Regions from separate parts of the Homo sapiens genome. Here region 2 is linked to region 1. Evidence: fine-mapped expression QTL. Tissue or cell type: whole blood. Region 1 holds a variant in brackets; the other region holds the start of a gene. All regions are shown on one strand. Distances are between the middles of the regions.

The links. PIP is the estimated chance that this variant, and not a neighbour inherited with it, causes the effect.
Region 2: it holds the start of FPR3, and the variant in region 1 is fine-mapped to the expression of FPR3 in whole blood (TOPMed, PIP above 0.99).

The regions. Positions count from the first base shown.
Region 1 is chr19:51,829,073-51,837,321 of GRCh38, forward strand. It overlaps a transcript of ZNF577 not described here. Among named protein-coding and RNA genes, the nearest start is that of FPR3, 38 kb to the left of the region's middle. The variant C/T (reference allele first, on the strand shown) is at 3,694.
Region 2 is chr19:51,791,696-51,799,944 of GRCh38, forward strand. It overlaps FPR3 (formyl peptide receptor 3), which reads left to right and starts at 3,462. Exons shown (of 2, transcript NM_002030.5): 1 at 3,462-3,636.

The DNA.
Region 1 (8,249 bases):
AAAGTCCTGGTCTCCAGCCAGAGTGAGCTGGCCAGTATGGTGAAACTCTATGTCCATCTCTGCCAGGGTCCAACCTGGCCGAATGACAGATGAAAAATGCACTCTGAGACTGATATCCAGTGAAAAAGCAGGCTAGGGGACTGGGCAGCTCACAGACACCGAGGAGGGAGCTGTAAAGAGTCAGTAGCCACAGCCCCGACAAGCTGGCACTGTGGGCATTTATTCAGTACAGATTTAATGACAAAGGCCTGGAGTCAACACGTCTTGTGGGTAATTAACATTGTCACCCCCCACCCCCCAAGACAGCAGTCCTGTGCACAGATGATTAAATACCAGGTTCCGAGGCCTAAGTAAACTAACTTATCTAGATCAATTCCTTTACACTTCCTTGTTATCCATTCTGAGAAAATTCAGCTGCCTTCAGCCAAATCCTCTTCTGAAGCTATGCAAATCCCAGGCCTTCCAAGAAGGTTTGCATCCTTTTCCTATAATTTATCTTACAACTTTTCCCACCATCCTGACCGATCTCCTACACATCTCACTGATGAGAGAGCCACAGGATACCAGGCTCCTGGGTAGCAGCAATTCCCTCATAGTGAAGTCAGAAAAGATGATAAAATGCTGGGCTTCAGTGTGTTGATAAAGGAGAGCCAGGATGAAAGGATCAAGTCACCTAAGCCTAACCTGTAATATGGCAACTGCACAAGTCCCCTTGGCAATTTTCAAGAGCAAGTGCTGCTGAGGCCAGTGCCTCCTTGGTTGCTGCATTCCTTCCTGCTATCACTCCTTGTCCCCACTAGCCACTCAGAGGTCAAGTGGGGCACCTTCAAAAGGGAAACAACTGCCCACAAGGCCAGTGCAAATGGAGCTCACCCCCAGATGTTTTTAGTAACAATTTGTAAAGTCAAAACAACAGGGTGCCAAACCCAAGGTCATCTAGATTTTCTCCTGTTATCTTCTAGGAGTTTTATAATTTTGTCTTTTACATTTAGGTCTGTGATCCATTTTGAGTCCTATTTATCTGGTGGAAACCTGACTGACATAGCATATGCTTCTAGTGTTTAAAAAAAAAAAAAAAAACAGAGGAAAGATGAAGCATTAACTAATATAAATTAGTAGAAATTGAGTGGAAGAAATGAAAATAGTCTCTCTGTCTACTTTATCATGCCATTTTCTTTTTGTGTTTTTGCCATCAGCATATACATCTGTTCTCTAATCTACTAACTGAAAACATAAAAACCTTTTGTACCACACGCGTCCTCCTGAACTTTACAACAAATTTCTCTGCTCTCCTTGACAGCAAACTCAAGGGTCACTTCCAGTTTCTTTCTCTACTTCCTCATTTCACATTTTCTCCAGAACTCATTCTAAATGGGTTCATGTCCTGATTACTGCAGTGGGACTACTCTTATCAAGGACAACAGTGACATCCATTGCCATGTTACTGCACTGCAGGTTCAGACATTTGGTGCTTGCCTATGAATCCAATGGAGTAAATCTAAGTCATATATGCTTATCTGATAATGATGGGAATCTTAGGCCCCTAAGCATATATGACTCAGTTGTCCACACCCTTTTATTTTAAAATATATAATTCTCTTGGTGACATCACACTTGTTTGGTTTTCTTCCTACCTCAGTGATTTATCTTTCTCAATCTCCTTGACTGGCTCTTTTCTGACTTTTAAATGTTGGTGTACCCGAGGGCTCAATTCTAGACCCCCCTCATCTATTTGCATCAATGCAGTCATCCTAGGTAATGTGTTCCTATAACTTGAAATCCCATCTGTACATAAATGACTCCCCCTAAACATCCATCATAATCCACAACTTCTCTTCAGGACTCCAGACTGGTATCTACCTCCCTCCTCTGCATTTCCACTTGAAAACCTATGGGGCATCATCAAAGTAAAACTATCAATTTGATTCCCCCTGAAACAGTTGCTTGACAAATCTTCTACATTTCTTCCAAATTTAGGAAAAGTCATCACACTCTACCAAATGTCTTAAGTCCCAAATATAAGTAATTATTGATTCTTTATTTTATTTATTTATTTTTTATGAGATGGAGTCTCACTCTGTTGTCCAGGCTGGAGTGCTGTGGTGCGATCTTCACTCACCGCAACCTCTGCCTCCAAGGTTCAAGCAATTATCCTGCTTCAGCCTCCTAAGTAGTTGGGGTTACAAGGTTCATGCCACCCCGCCTGGCTAATATTTGTATTTTTAGTAGAGATGGGGTTTCACCATGTTGGCCAGGCTGGTCTCAAACTCCTGATCTCAAGTGATCCACCTGCCTTGGCCTCCCAAAGTGCAAGGATTACAAGCATGAGCCACTGCACCCGGCCTATTGATTCTTTTAATCTAATCCATCACCATATCCCATTGACTCTATGTCAAAAACGTGGACCAAATCTGTGTGTTTCTTTCCTGTCCACTACCACCTGACTTCAAACCATCATCATCCGGACCACTACAATAGTTTCCTAATCTTTCTGCATTCACTCTTGCTCTACAGCAATCAGTTATTTACACAGCAGCCAAAGTTTTTTTTTTCTAATATAAACATGATCGTGCCCATCTCTTGATTAACACCCTCCAATAGCTTCCCATCATGCTAATAATAAAAACATCTGAATCCACTATCTGACTCCCAAAGCCTCATATTATCTGGCTTTTGCCTGTCCTTCTGATGGTCTTCCTCAACAGTTTTTCTTTCATCGATTATGTTAGTAATTACACTAGTAATATCTTTATTTCTCAAACATACCAAATCATTCTTGTCTCAGAATCTTTGTACTAACTGTTGTCCTGCTTGGAATATTCTTCCTCTTGAACTTTCATGTGACCAGTTCATGTAATTCTAATCTCAGTTTAAACATAACCTCCTCAGAACATTTTTTTCTGAGTCCCTAAGATAACGTAGCCTCTCAGGCTCTCTCCAGTCTAGTTCAGCAAATATTTTAGTTCTTTTCATAGCACTTGTTGTAGCTTTTTGTCAATCACAAAATCACCTCCCTTCTCTCATTCTTTGCTGGTCTGAGAGCCTTTGACGCCTCTGTTTTTCTTCATCTATTGTAGCAGCCTCCACATTCATCTGTCATTTTTCAGTGAGAAAGAGAGTGGGTATCCAGAAAATGAGGTCTGAACCATATACAGCAGAGTTTGTTAAGCCTGAGGTAGACACCTGGTAGCCATTAAAAGATACAGAGCAATGTGATGATCTGCTCTATTTTTTTTTAATTTGTATTGAGTCTAAAGCTTAACCATAATTTTCTTTTTTTATTTTTATTTTTTATTTTTTTGAGACAAGGTCTTACTCTGTTTCCCAGGCTAGAGTGCAGTGGTGCAATCTCAGCTCACTGCAGCCTCTGCCCCCTGGGCTCAAGTGATCCTCCTGCCTCAGCCTCCCAAGTAGCTGGGACTGGAGGTGCAAACCACCATGCCTGGCTAATCAACCATAAAAATTTTTCATTTTTATGAAGTCCAACTTATTCCTTTTTTACAGATTGTGCTTTTGGTGTCATGTCAAAGAATTCTTTGGTTAGCTCTTGGTCCTGGACATTTTTTAATGTTTTCTCCTAAAAATGTAGTAGTTCTACATTTAATATTTAAATCTATAATCCATCTTTAATTATCTTTTGCAAAGAATGTGAGGCTTAGGTTGAGTTTCTTTTTTGTTAATATTTTTAATGTC[C/T]AATTACGCCAGTATCATTTGTTGAAAATAATATTCTTTCTTCATTGAATTTTTTACGTATGTCAAAAGTCAATATTGTGTGTGGATCTATTTCCGGACTCTATTGTGTTCCATTGGTCTGTCTACCGTTTAGCCAATATCACACTGTCTTGATAATTGTAGCTTAATAGCAAGTCTTGACATACTCCAATGTTGTTCCTTTTCAAAAGTAATTTGGCTATTTTAGTTCCTTTGCCTTTCGATATAAATTTTTAGAATTAGGTTAATGTTTTTTTAACTTGAATCACATTGAATCTATGGATTTGCTTGAAGAAGAACTGATGTCTTAATCATATTCTGTCTGCAGTACTCTCTTATTCAGTACTAATCTTTCAACTCTATCTGCCTTGTTCTTCCCAACTCCCAACTTTATCTTCTTATTTCAAAGAGTCTACCGGGCTCTACCTGTGTTTCCCCTCCTACTCTGTGGCCTGGGAACTCTCTCAAGTCAGTAATCAAGGCAATCACGGGAATCATCTTATTTGTTTCCCCTTTTTTGGAGATTACAATGCTATACTACCTGTTGTCCAGTGTCAGAAAACCATTCTTTCCCATTTTCCCTAGATTTTTAGTTGTTTAAGGTAGGAGCATAAATCTGGTCTCTCTTATGCCATCACCGCTGGAAGTAGTTATGTTGATTGTGTTTTAAAAAGTCATTTTTTGCTTCTGTTCATGGAGAGAGAGAGCTGTTTGCAAAAGCTAGTTCAGGCATCCAGACAAGAGATGGCATGAGCCTGTAGGTGATTCTTGGGGTGCATAAAATCAGCAGCACTTGGATTTTGCTTACCAAATGAGAGAAAAATCAATAATAAATTTTAGACTTGGCACTTAATCTACTGAGAGGACAATGCCTCTGATTCCTAAAAGAAAGAAAACTGAGGAAGGGGCAGGTCAGGGAATAGGAGAACTGGGGATACTGTTTTCAGAATGTTTAGTTTGTCATGCCTACTGCTTGTGTTCACAGAAATTCCAAGAAGTTGACTGATTTTATGAGGCTGGAATTTTGGGAAGTGGTCAGGGCTGATGGTTTAGATTAACAGTTAGGGGTACAATATATTTTTTTCTTTTAGTTTTAGTTCACATCGTAATTGTACATGTTTAAGGGATACAGAGTGATATGTTGATACATGCATACAATGTGTATAATAGTCAAATCAGGGTAATTAGCACATCCATCACCTAAAACATTTATCATTTCTCTATGTGGTGAAGATTCAAAATCCTCTCCTCTAGCTTTTCAAAAACACACAATAGATTTTTTTTTTTCTAGCCACTTATGTAGCTACAAAAATAGTACTGGAGTAGGGGCAGGGTCTTGCTCTGTCACCCAGGCTGGAGTGCAGTGGCACAATCATAGCTCACTGCAGCCTTAAAACCCTGGGCTCAAGTGATCCTCCACCTCAGTCTCTGGAGTAGCTGAGGCATGTGCAGCCACACTCCTTTTATTTATTTATTTGTTTTGTGGAAACAAGGTCACACTATGTTGCCCAGGCAAACTCCTGGCCTCAAGATACAGAGAATTAAAAAGCACAATCAAGTAACCTAACTGACATTTATAAACCATTTCTTACACCTAAGAGTAGGATATTTCACATAATACCCAATATAATTCTTTTCAAGTGCTGGGTTATAAAATAAGTTTTAATAAAAATCTAAGGCTTTAAATTATACTAAGTATATTCCATGACCATAATCTATCAAATTAAAAACCAGCAATAACAACATAACTAGCAAATGCCCAAATCTTTGGAAACTAAACAACATATATGTAAATAACCCATGGGCCAAATAAATCTTAATGAAGATTAGAAAATATTTTTAACTGAAGGATAAGAGGAGTACATTTCAAATTTTGTGATTTAAAGCTAAAGACAGTGTGCACACGATTTTTTTTTTTAAGACAGGGTCTTGCTCTGTCACTCAAGCTGCAGTGAAGTGGCAGAATCACGGCTCACTGCAGCTTCAACCTCTTGGGCTCAAGCAATCCTCCTGCCTCAGCCTCCTGAATGGCTGAGGTTATAGGCACTCACCACCACATCTGGCTAATTTTTAAATTTTTTTGTAGAGGTGGGGTCTTGCTATGTTGTCCAGACTGCTCTTGAACTCCTGGCCTCAAGCAATCATCCAACCTGAGCCTCCCTTACAGGGGAATTTTTACCTTAAGTGTTTTTATTAGAGAATAAGTGTGTGAACTCAATGATCTAAGTTTACATTTCAAGAAGCTAGAAAAATATCAAATTAAATCTAAAGAAAATATAAGAAAATAACTTTTAAAAGTGGAAATAAATGAAATAGAGATCAATAGAAGAGGAAATATTAAAGTTATGTTAAGATATCAATAAAATGGATAAGTTTCTAGCAATACTAATCAAGAAAAAAGAGAAAATACAAATGACCAATCTTAGGAATGAAAAAAGGAACATTATTACAGAGACTAAACACACTAAAATGATATTACAAATCACTTTATAACATTATATTTGACAATTTAGATGAAATGGACAAATTCCTTGAAAAGCACACATATGAAACTGTCATAAAAAGAATTAGAAAATCTAAATAGTCCAATACCTAGTAAAGAAATTGAATTTCTAATCAATACCCATTAAAAAAAAAAAAAACTTCAGGCTTGCATTGTTTCACCTGTGAATTCTACTGAATATTTAAGAAAGAAGTAACATCAGTCTTACAAGAAACACTTCCAAAAGACAGGGAAAAAAGGAACACTTACTAGTTTACTTTTAAATACATCTGTTCAATACAAAAATTGTGCTTGAAGAATAAAGTGATTTTTATGAACTGAAGTTAAAATTAATATTAATAAATTTTTTATTTTAACCAATATTTCAGAAAAGTTATGTTTTCACTGACATGGCCAGACATAACTGAAATCAGTATCTTTTTTTTTGAGACAGTCTTGCTCTGTTCCCCAGGCTGGAGTGCAATGGCACGATCTCGGCTCACTGCAACCTCCGCCTCCCTGGTTCAAGCAATTCTCCTGTCTCAGCCTCCTGAGTAGCTCGAATCACAGATGCCTGCCACCACGCCCAGCTAATTTTTGTATTTTTAGTAGAGATGGGGTTTCACCATGTTGGTCAGGCTGGTCTTGAACTACTGACCTCAGGTGATCCACCTGCCTTGGCCTCCCAAAGTGCTGGGATTACAGGCGTGAGCCACCGCACCCGACCTTGAAATCAATATCTTAAGTAATGTTTGGATCATGCAATTTTAAAGTGACACATACTTTACACATTAGTGGTTTTAAAAAGTTTTTCTCACATTGATGTCATGGCAATAAATGGAAGAAAAAAATACCTAGTTCTTGAAAACAATAATAAAAACCTTTGTTTCTAATGATTACTCATCATGTGGAAATTTGCAGTGAAACCAAAATGAAGCCAAGTAATTTAATTTCTACTCTTCAAAAATCTCTGTATGTAGTATTTCTGGAGTATCTGACTAGTATAATAAGGTTTTTTTGCCTTTATTGTCAGACACTTCATTAAATCTTAAGGTGGTAAAAACAGTGTGAAATCATCATAAAATCTTACCATTCAAATAAATGTACTTATGTTTTACACTTTTTGAAATAGATATTCTGACGGGGGTAAGATAATATCTCATTGTGGTTTTGATTTGCATTTCTCTGACGATTTGTGATGTTTGGCTTTTTTAATGTACCTGTTGGCCATTTCTATGTCTTCTTCTGAAAAACGTCTATTCATGTCCTTTGCTTACGTTTTAATGGAATTACCAGTTCTGTTGTTGTTTCCACACGAACATTTTCAGATGAACATTCATTGAGATTTTATTCATAAAAGTCAAACCTGGAAGTAACTCAGATGTCTGTCAACTGGTGAGTGGATACACTATAGCATATCTGTATGATGGAATGTTAGAGTTAAAAAGGAATTGCTAATAAATGCAACAACATTGTGAACAAAAGTTCCTGAAAAGGGCTGGGTGCAGTAGCTCACGCCTGTAATACCAGCACTTTGGGAGGCTGCGGCGGGTGGATCACCTGAGGTCAGGAGTTCAAGACCAGCATAGGCAACATGGTGAAATCCAGTCTCTACTAAAAATACAAAAATTATACGGGCATGGTGGCACGCACCTGTAATCCCAGCTACTTGGGAGGCAGAGGCAGGAGAACTGCTTGAACCCAGGAGGCAGAGGTTGCAGTGAGCCCAGAGGGCGCCACTGCACCCCAGCCTGGGTGACAGAGTGAGACTCTGTCTCAAAAAAAAAAAAAAAAGAAAAGAAAAGAAAAAATTATCTGAAAAGGAATGTGAAGGAAACAGACTTTATTCCAGCAAAAGGCTGCAAACTACAGAAACACAATCTTTGTTGTAAAATGAAGGTGTGTTCCAGGGAACAGAGGGAAGGCTCCGGTTTTAAAGCAAAAGTTTCTGCCCAGGTTCCCTATCACCTATGTTGCTATCACCTATGTTGATGCCAAGAAAGAGTGAAACTTACTTAGTTCTTATTGGTTAACACAGCTCAGTCCTGATTGGTTG
Region 2 (8,249 bases), 37 kb before region 1:
AGAGCACTCATTCTTCCCCATTCCCCACAGCCATCCAGTCTCCAAGGCTGGTCTACTCAGCCTGGACAATCTGTCTCTAAGCTACGCCTCTTCTTGATCACACTATTCCTGCCCTGGGTAGCTCTTCAAGAACCTTACCTTGATTTCTGGCAACATTCTCCATTCTAATATCTCTGTCTCCAATTAGAAACATTCTCAAAGGCATCCCTTTGCAGGACTACAGAACAATATTTTTCAGAAGCACACACCTGACAAGTCACTGTCCTGCTTAAATGGTTATTCATGTTATTATGAAGAAATTCCAAGTCCTTCTTGTAGCATTCAGGACCCTCCAACAGATGGCTTCTGCCACTTGCTACACACTCAGTGTTTATTGCTGTCTGCCTCACCATCTATGCTCCAATAACCGCAGGTAACCTGCTATTTTTTGACCCTTTCCTGCGTGCTTTCACTCTCCTCTGCCTGGAATGTATTTTTTTTTGCTTCTTTATCTGAGTCTTTAAGATTCATCCCGGATGTTATCTGCATTGCACTTGGAAGTGACCCTGGACCCTGTCAGTCTCAGTTAGTTGTTCCTTTTGGGAAATCTCATAATGAACCAGGCATCTGTCTATCACTATATACCCCCACTCTACTGTGACTGCTTAGGGAAATGGCAGAGGACACCATTGTGCACAAAGGGTGCATAAGACTATGCTTAGTCACAGTAGAGTGACGCTGTCACCTCTTTACCTGGGTAGTCGGCATCTCCAGGGTAAGGCACATGTCTGTTTAAGCTCTATGTCTGCAGGAGCCAGCAAGGGAGCACCTCTTCAGAGGCCTCATGCAATACCCACCACCCTTTATTATACTGATAAGTAAATTCCATTTTAATCAGGTGGCAGGTAGCAATGTGCCACTGTCCTAGGAAAGCAATCATGATTGGCCTAAGCCAATATGAGCAACTTGTCTTTTTTTTTTTTTTTTTTTTTTTTGAGGTAAGGTATTGCTCATTGCCCAGGCTCGAGGGCAGTGGCATCATCATGGCTCACTGCAGCCTCAACTTCCCTGACAAAGCAGTCCTCCCACTTCACCTCCTGAGTAGCTGGAACTACAGGTCCACACCACCACACCCAGCTAATATTTTTTTGGTTTTAGAGATGGGGTCTCACTATGTTGCCCAGGCTGGTCTTGAACTCCTGAGCTCAAGCAATCTTCCTGTCTTGGCCTCCCCAAATTCTGGCATTACAGGCGTGAGCCACTGTCCCTGACCTTTATTTTTATGTATCGGTATTTTTGTTATTTCTTGGCCATTGATTGGTCTAGAGATGGCATGCTCTGGCAATGAAAGACAAGGAGAGGTCCTGAAGAGACTCTGGACAAGGTTTCCCTCTGTAATAAAATGGAAGAGGCATGTGAATGAGTCACATTTTCTGCCTGTCTCATGATTCTGGCTCGGGAGGGCCTGTTGATGCAATGTCCAGAACAGTGGCAGCCATTCTGTGGTCACTTTCAAGAAAGCCCTAGAAGAAAACCAATATGATGATGGAGTGGAAGGGTGACATTAAACTCAATTTTTGTTCAAACTCCAGATCTATCCCCTTCCAAAACTTTTTTTAATAATAAATTTCTCCATGGCTTATGTGCTTCATTGGTTTACTCTACCTTATCACTGAAAACATCCAGTGAATCAGAGAGAAAATAGAAAATAGTTGACTCTTGTTTTGTGGCTCTCCACTGTTTTTCATGGTTCTATTCCTTGGGCTTGAGAACAACATTCTGATGGTGTTTAAAAACTCAGAAAGAGCCCATCTCCTTAGATCAGTAGTCCATAGAGCATCTCCCTAGGGGCAGAAGGTTAGGGGGTTAATCTCGGCAATGGTGTGGAGTGTACAGTGTCTCTCATTTACCTTCCTTACCTCTCTACATGCTCCTAGTTACTGCTTCTCTTTGTAACTCTGAGGTATGAAATACCTCAAAGCATATTTGATTTTGTCACAGATTTCTGGCACAGGGCTCTTAAAACCCTTGGAATTCCCTGAGTGATAGGAGTATTATTTGTTATTCATAAACAGCCCCTTTTGATCATAGCTGAGTTTATGCTAAGGAGATCATGGCCTTAGGATGGGACTGGTCACCAGAAAGACCAAGGGATTAGAGGGTTGGAGCTGTCAGCCCCACCTACTGATCTCCAGGAAGGGGAGGCAGGGACTGGAGATTGAGTTCCATAAAAACTCTTGAACAATGAGATTTGATGAGCTTCCACATTGGTGAACACTCAGGAGTGCTGGGAGAGTGGCTGCCTGAAGAGAGCATGGAAGCTCCATGCACCACCCAACCCCTTCCCTGCCATATACCTGCCATATGCCTCTTTCCAATGGACTATTCCTGAGGTATATTCCTTATATAAAGCAACAGATGCAAACAAAGTGCTTTCCTGAGTTCTGTGTGCCATTCTAGCAATTTATTGGTGTCATTGGAACACCCAATTTATAGCCTGTCAGTCAGAAGTACAAGTAGCCACCTGGGACTTGCAACAGATGTCTGATCTGATCTGAGAACAGTTTGTGGGAGTGAGCCCTTTAGCTTTTCGGATCTGAGCTGAATCCAGGTAGACAGCATCATAACCGAATTTTTAATTGCAGGTGGCCCAGGTGGTGTCCCCAGAGAATTGGAGAATTTCTTGGTGTAGAGAAAAAGTATATTTGGTCAGAAGGATTGTGAAAGTAGAGAATCGAGTTTTTGTTTCACCGTGCATCTTTGTTTTTTTATTGTTTTTCCTCTCATTCTTCTCACCTTGGTAATTGTTTCTTTCATTTTCCTGAATCTCTGAAAAGAAAGGGCCTGGACTCTCAGATTTCTTGGCCTTTGATATTTGGAAGGATGAACTCCAGTCTCCCACAGAAGGCTAGAGGTGAAGGAACATTCAGACACATAAGTTTCCAAGATAAATCGTCTGAGAACATCTCCAAGGTGTCTTCTGGGAATGGTAAGAAACCCTGAGTTTGTGTCACTGGATTGATTCCAGCTCCATTGTCCCCGTGTCCTTCAACTAAGTCTCTGCTGAAGCCTGTTCTATAAAAACAGCAAGTAAGTGGTTTGGACTGACCTATTGTACTAGGTTCGACAAAGCAAACCAAATGGAGTCAGTCATACTAAAACTCCACATCACCAAACCAAAACTAATGTATCTGAACTTTTGAGAAATCAGGAGAGAGAGAAAATGGACAAATTCCTAAAACAGGCCAGTTTCAGTGGGCATGAACATGAAGTTCTGTCTGCTTTCATCTTTACAAAAAAAAAAAAAAAGCAATCTGTGGTAACTTGACTTCAATCAATCAGTTGTTCCTTATTGCTGTCTCTCTATTCCTGCTGCACAAAAAAAATGCAACATCCAGATGACCAATCAGGTTTTTGTTCTCTGTTTCTGCTTTCTTTAGCCCTCCTATCCCTGTAAAACCAACTTCCTTGGCTCTAACTATCAAAACACTCATTTTGTTTTATAGCATGACAGGCTGTCTGATTCCATCTTTATAACCAAAGCCAATTAAGATCTTAAAACCAAACATATAACTTCATCTTTTTACAAGTACTTAGAGCCTGAGTTGCTCCACAGGAATCCAGGAACTGGGCACAGGAAAAGGATCTAAGCTGGTGGTAAGTTGGGGTCTGAAAATTTTAAAGTTATTGTTGAAATGCCTGCTATATGACAGAGCCCTTCTAACTCTGGAGTAGCGTAGTCCAGTGAAGAATCCACTTCGTTAGTATGAAAACAATGTTAACTATTTCATTAACAGTGTTTAATTTGGTTACATGTTCCAGTAACATTCTTTTTTTTTTTTTTTTTTTTTTTTTTTTTGATGGAGTCTTGCGCTGTCACCCAGGCTGGAGTGCAGTGGCACAATCTCAGCCCACTGCAACCTCTGCCTCCCAGGTTCAAGCGATTCTCCTGCCTCAGCCTCCTGAGTAGCTGGGATTACAGGCACCTGCCACCACGCCTGGCTAATTTTTTGTATTTTTAGTAGAGACGGGGTTTCAATATGTTGGCCAGGCTGGTCTTCAACTCCTGACCTCGTGATCTGCCCACCTCGGCCTCCCAAAGTGCTGGGATTACAGGCGTGAGCCAATGTGACTGGCCAATTCTTTATCATATATGTAATTAAATAAAATTTATTACTAAAATAATTTCCCCAAAGGTGTTTTACTTTTTTAAAAACAGTGGCTACAAAAAAATTTTGAGTCCCATATGTAGCTAAAGTTAACACATTATATTTCTACTGGACATGTAGCATTGTAGAGATGTAGCATTGAAGGATCTTGATAGTCCTGTGGAGCTTACGTACTAGTGTGGAGGGTATTTAAGAGAGAAGATAAATGAACAAACAAATAAAGGAGAAAAGTATCTGGTGAGATAGGCTGTACCTGAGCATTCTGCTTTGCAGAGTGGGTGAGGTGGGATCTCTCTGAAATAATATTTGACCTGAAATATGAATATTCAGGATGAGCCAGGTGCAGGAAGCTCAAGACGAAGAGCACGGTAGGCAGAAGGAATAGAGAAAGCAGAAGCCCTGAGATGACAAAGAGCTGCAAGTTCAAGGAATTAGAGCCCAGTGGGTGGAGCCCAGTGTGTCTGATGAGAGTGCAGAGATGAGGTCTGAGGGATGCACAGGGCACATGTGGCAGTGGATAAGGGAACCTAGGATAAGGGAACCTAAGATAAGGGTAACTTAGAAGTCTGGAAGCCATCGGAAGGTATTGCGAATAACATCACCATCTTATTGGACCTTTTTAAAGCTCATTTGGTTTCTGTCTGGAGAATGGATCTTAGGGGAGGGGGCAGCAGGACCAGGAAAAAGCTATTTGCAAGGCTTGTGCAAATATCCAAGCCTGACAGGGCCATGGACACCGGTCGTGGAGATGGCAATGGCTCTGGCTGTGCATTCAGCATGTTCTGTAGATAGAATGAGTAAGACGTGGATGGCGTTGGGTGGTGAGGAAAAGAGAAATGAAAGGTGAGTTCTAGATCTGGAGCTTTAACAACTGAATATTTAATCTCCAAATAGATACAGAATATTGGAAGAGTGGCAGGTCTGGGAGGCAGAGAACATCAACAGTTTGGTAAAACCATGTGAGGTTTGGAGTCTATGGGACTCCCACGGGGAGAGGTTTTATCAGACTTGAGTGCCAGGGAGAGGCCACGGCTGATAATTTAGATGAAAAGACAGCATAATGGTTTAATCCCAGAGACTGGATGATATCATTTATAGAATGTGAGATACCCCAACATTTAGAGTCAAATTTAGAATAGAAAACACCGTAAATTGGACTAAAAAGAGGAAGAGAATCGAGCTGTAGAGACGACCAAGAGTGTATTGTGTGCACATATCTCTTGGATATATCTCATGGCATAGGAAAAATGTGTTTGAAAAGGGAGAAAGTGATCCAATGGGTCCTGTGTCATTGGGATATCAGGTCTTAAAAACTGAGAAGGACTCACTGGATTTGGCAGCCTGGGGGTCATAAGCATCCTTGGGAAAATGCATTAGGTGGAGTGCTAAGGACAGAAGTCAATGTGGAGTGGATTAAGGAGAACAGCTGAGGCGAAGAAGGAAAAGGAAGAATTAGAGACATTCTCTTTGGATGTTTGGCTGGAAATTCTGTCTTACAGACAGACCTTACAGAGAGGTCATTTGGCTAGATAGGGTTGAAGCTGGAAAGAAATATGCTTCAAAGGAGGTTTCTCTTGAAAGAGAGGGGGCGTGATTATGTGATAGAATGATCTAGTAGAAATACAATTTTCAATTTTTTTGGTATAAAAAATGATCTTTTATCCCTCACCACATCCCACCTCAATCTAAGTCTTAACTTTCTCGTCTGTACAATGGTTATACAAATTAAAACTAACATTAATCAATATTCACCGTGTCTCAGGGTGTGTTGAGTGCTTACACATATTAACACATCCCATCCACAGAGCCTATGAGAGGAGTTGTGAGGGTTAAGGGAGAAGCTCTTGGTGTGTGGATAATGTTCATAAGTAGAAGCTACTATTGCTATAAGCATCGTTCTTGTCCTGACCCTGAGCTTCATAGTGCAGGGTTCGGGATTGTACCCCACAACACAACACACAGCCTGGTGAGGGCTAAGAGTTCTAATTTGTTACAGATTTACCGACCTATCCTAGATGATTTCCATGTCTATTCTTTTTTTTTTTTTTTTTTTTTTTGAGACGGAGTCTCGCTCTGTTGCCAAGCTGGAGTGTAGTGGTGCAATCTCAGCTCACTGCAACCTCTGCCTCCTGGGTTCAAGCGATTCCCCCACCTCAGCCTCCAGTCCATGTCTATTCTATTTAATCCTCCCCTGAAAATCAGTCTTTATCAAAAAACCATTTCAGTTCTGCAGAGGGGAAAATGGGGGCTCAAAGAGATGTCACTGATCAAGAATTTACACCATCGAGGTGTCAGAGATAAGATCAGAGTAGAGATCTAACTGACTCCAAAGCCTGGTACTCTTTACACTGTTACAGTGACACCCAACTGGCAGGGGGAGGGGGTGGGAGGTATTTTGCCTCCCAGGGGATCTTTGACAATGTCTTTTGGTTGTCACTCCTGAATGGGGAGTTGCTACTGGCATCTCTGGATAGCGGCCAGGGGTGCCGCTAAACATCCTACTGTGTACAGAACAGTCCACCACAACAAAGAATTAACCAGCCCAAAATGCCATTGGTGTCAAAGCTGAGAAACCCTGAGCTACACTAAACAATGTCCCTGGGAAGACCTCAGTGAAAGTGACTGATAATGATAGGAAAAAAGAAGGAAATGAGTAAAAGAAATAGGAGAAAAAATTTATTATACGAGGGCAGGACCCTATCCTGGTAATTTTGGAAGAACGCCTTTCAATGGCAGCACTTGAGCGTGCAAAGGTAGTGGCTCTGTTCGGTCTGGTTTACAAATCTTCCTGTCTCCACTGACTGGCTAGGTATGATGCTGAAAAAACTACAGGAGTCCCTGGGCCATGGATTCTCCCTAGTAAAAAAGGGATGATGATGGCTGCCTCACAGTGTTATTATGAGTATTAGATGTAAACAAGTGCTACATAATTGCTATCATTCTTAAAGAGGCTAAATAGCCCAGGGTGGGAAGATTCTCAGATTTTCATGATCATAGAAAATTGCTGTAGCTTGGCTGGGCGTGGTGGCTCACACCTGTAATCCCAGCACTTTGGGAGGCCGAGGAGTTCGAGACAGCCTGGCCAACATGGTGAAACCCCATCTCTACTAAAAATACAAAAAATTAGCCGGGCGTGGTGGTGGTGCCCAGCTACTGGGGAGGCTGAGGCAGAAGAATTACTTGAACCCAGGAGGCGAAGGTTGCAGTGAGCCGAGATCACACCGCTGCAGTCCAGCTGGGTGACAGAGGAAAAAAGGGAACCATTCGGACATTTGCCCCTGAACTTGAAGTGCGCCACACCCCACTCCCACTGCCAGTTGCCACCCCCGTCAGCTCTCTTTCTGCCTGTCCTCTTGCTCCTCTGAGTGTGGCCTCCAGATGTCTCATGTACCTCCCGGGGTCTGTGAATACTAAAACCTCTCGAACTTTAACACTGTCGTCGCCTCATTGAAGCCGCACCCACAATCCAACCCACGATGTGAGGCTGCCCGAAAGCGACCTGGGCAGTTGGATCCCCTCTTGATGTTCTTTTGTCCTGACCTCTGGTGGCTGCTGAGGATGGTCACTAGCAGCTGAGTTGATAGAGAAACTTGAAGAGCTTCATTTAATACTACTGGCATAGCAGGCAGGCTTTTGGCTGTGTCTTGGACACAATCCCAATGTCTGTGTGTGTGGATGACTCACGCACTTCCTGCATCAGACAGCCCAGTCGGTCTGGCCCAGACGGCACTACTGCTTGCTGGTGCTCCATTTTGCTGCTTCGTGCAGCTTAGTACTGCTGTCCTCAGCAGTTAACTTGGAGATTCTCCAGAAATTCCAGTGACCGTGGACGGCTCTTTGAGGCTCCAGGCTCCCCAGCAGCTGCAGGAGGGCAGATCCTATTGTAATGAGGGTGTTTCCCTGTGGGACATCAGAAACCCTTTCTGGGATCAGGCCCCTGACAGGGGGCCACTACTGGAGGGCATGTTGCCCCTTGAGCCATACATGCTTCTCTGGTGACCTAGGGCCTCGGTAGTGGTCCGGCCTGTATTGGCTCTAAGTAGCAAAGTACTGGCCTCCAGCCAGAGAGAGCTGGCCAGGATGCTGAGCTGGCCACCCGGT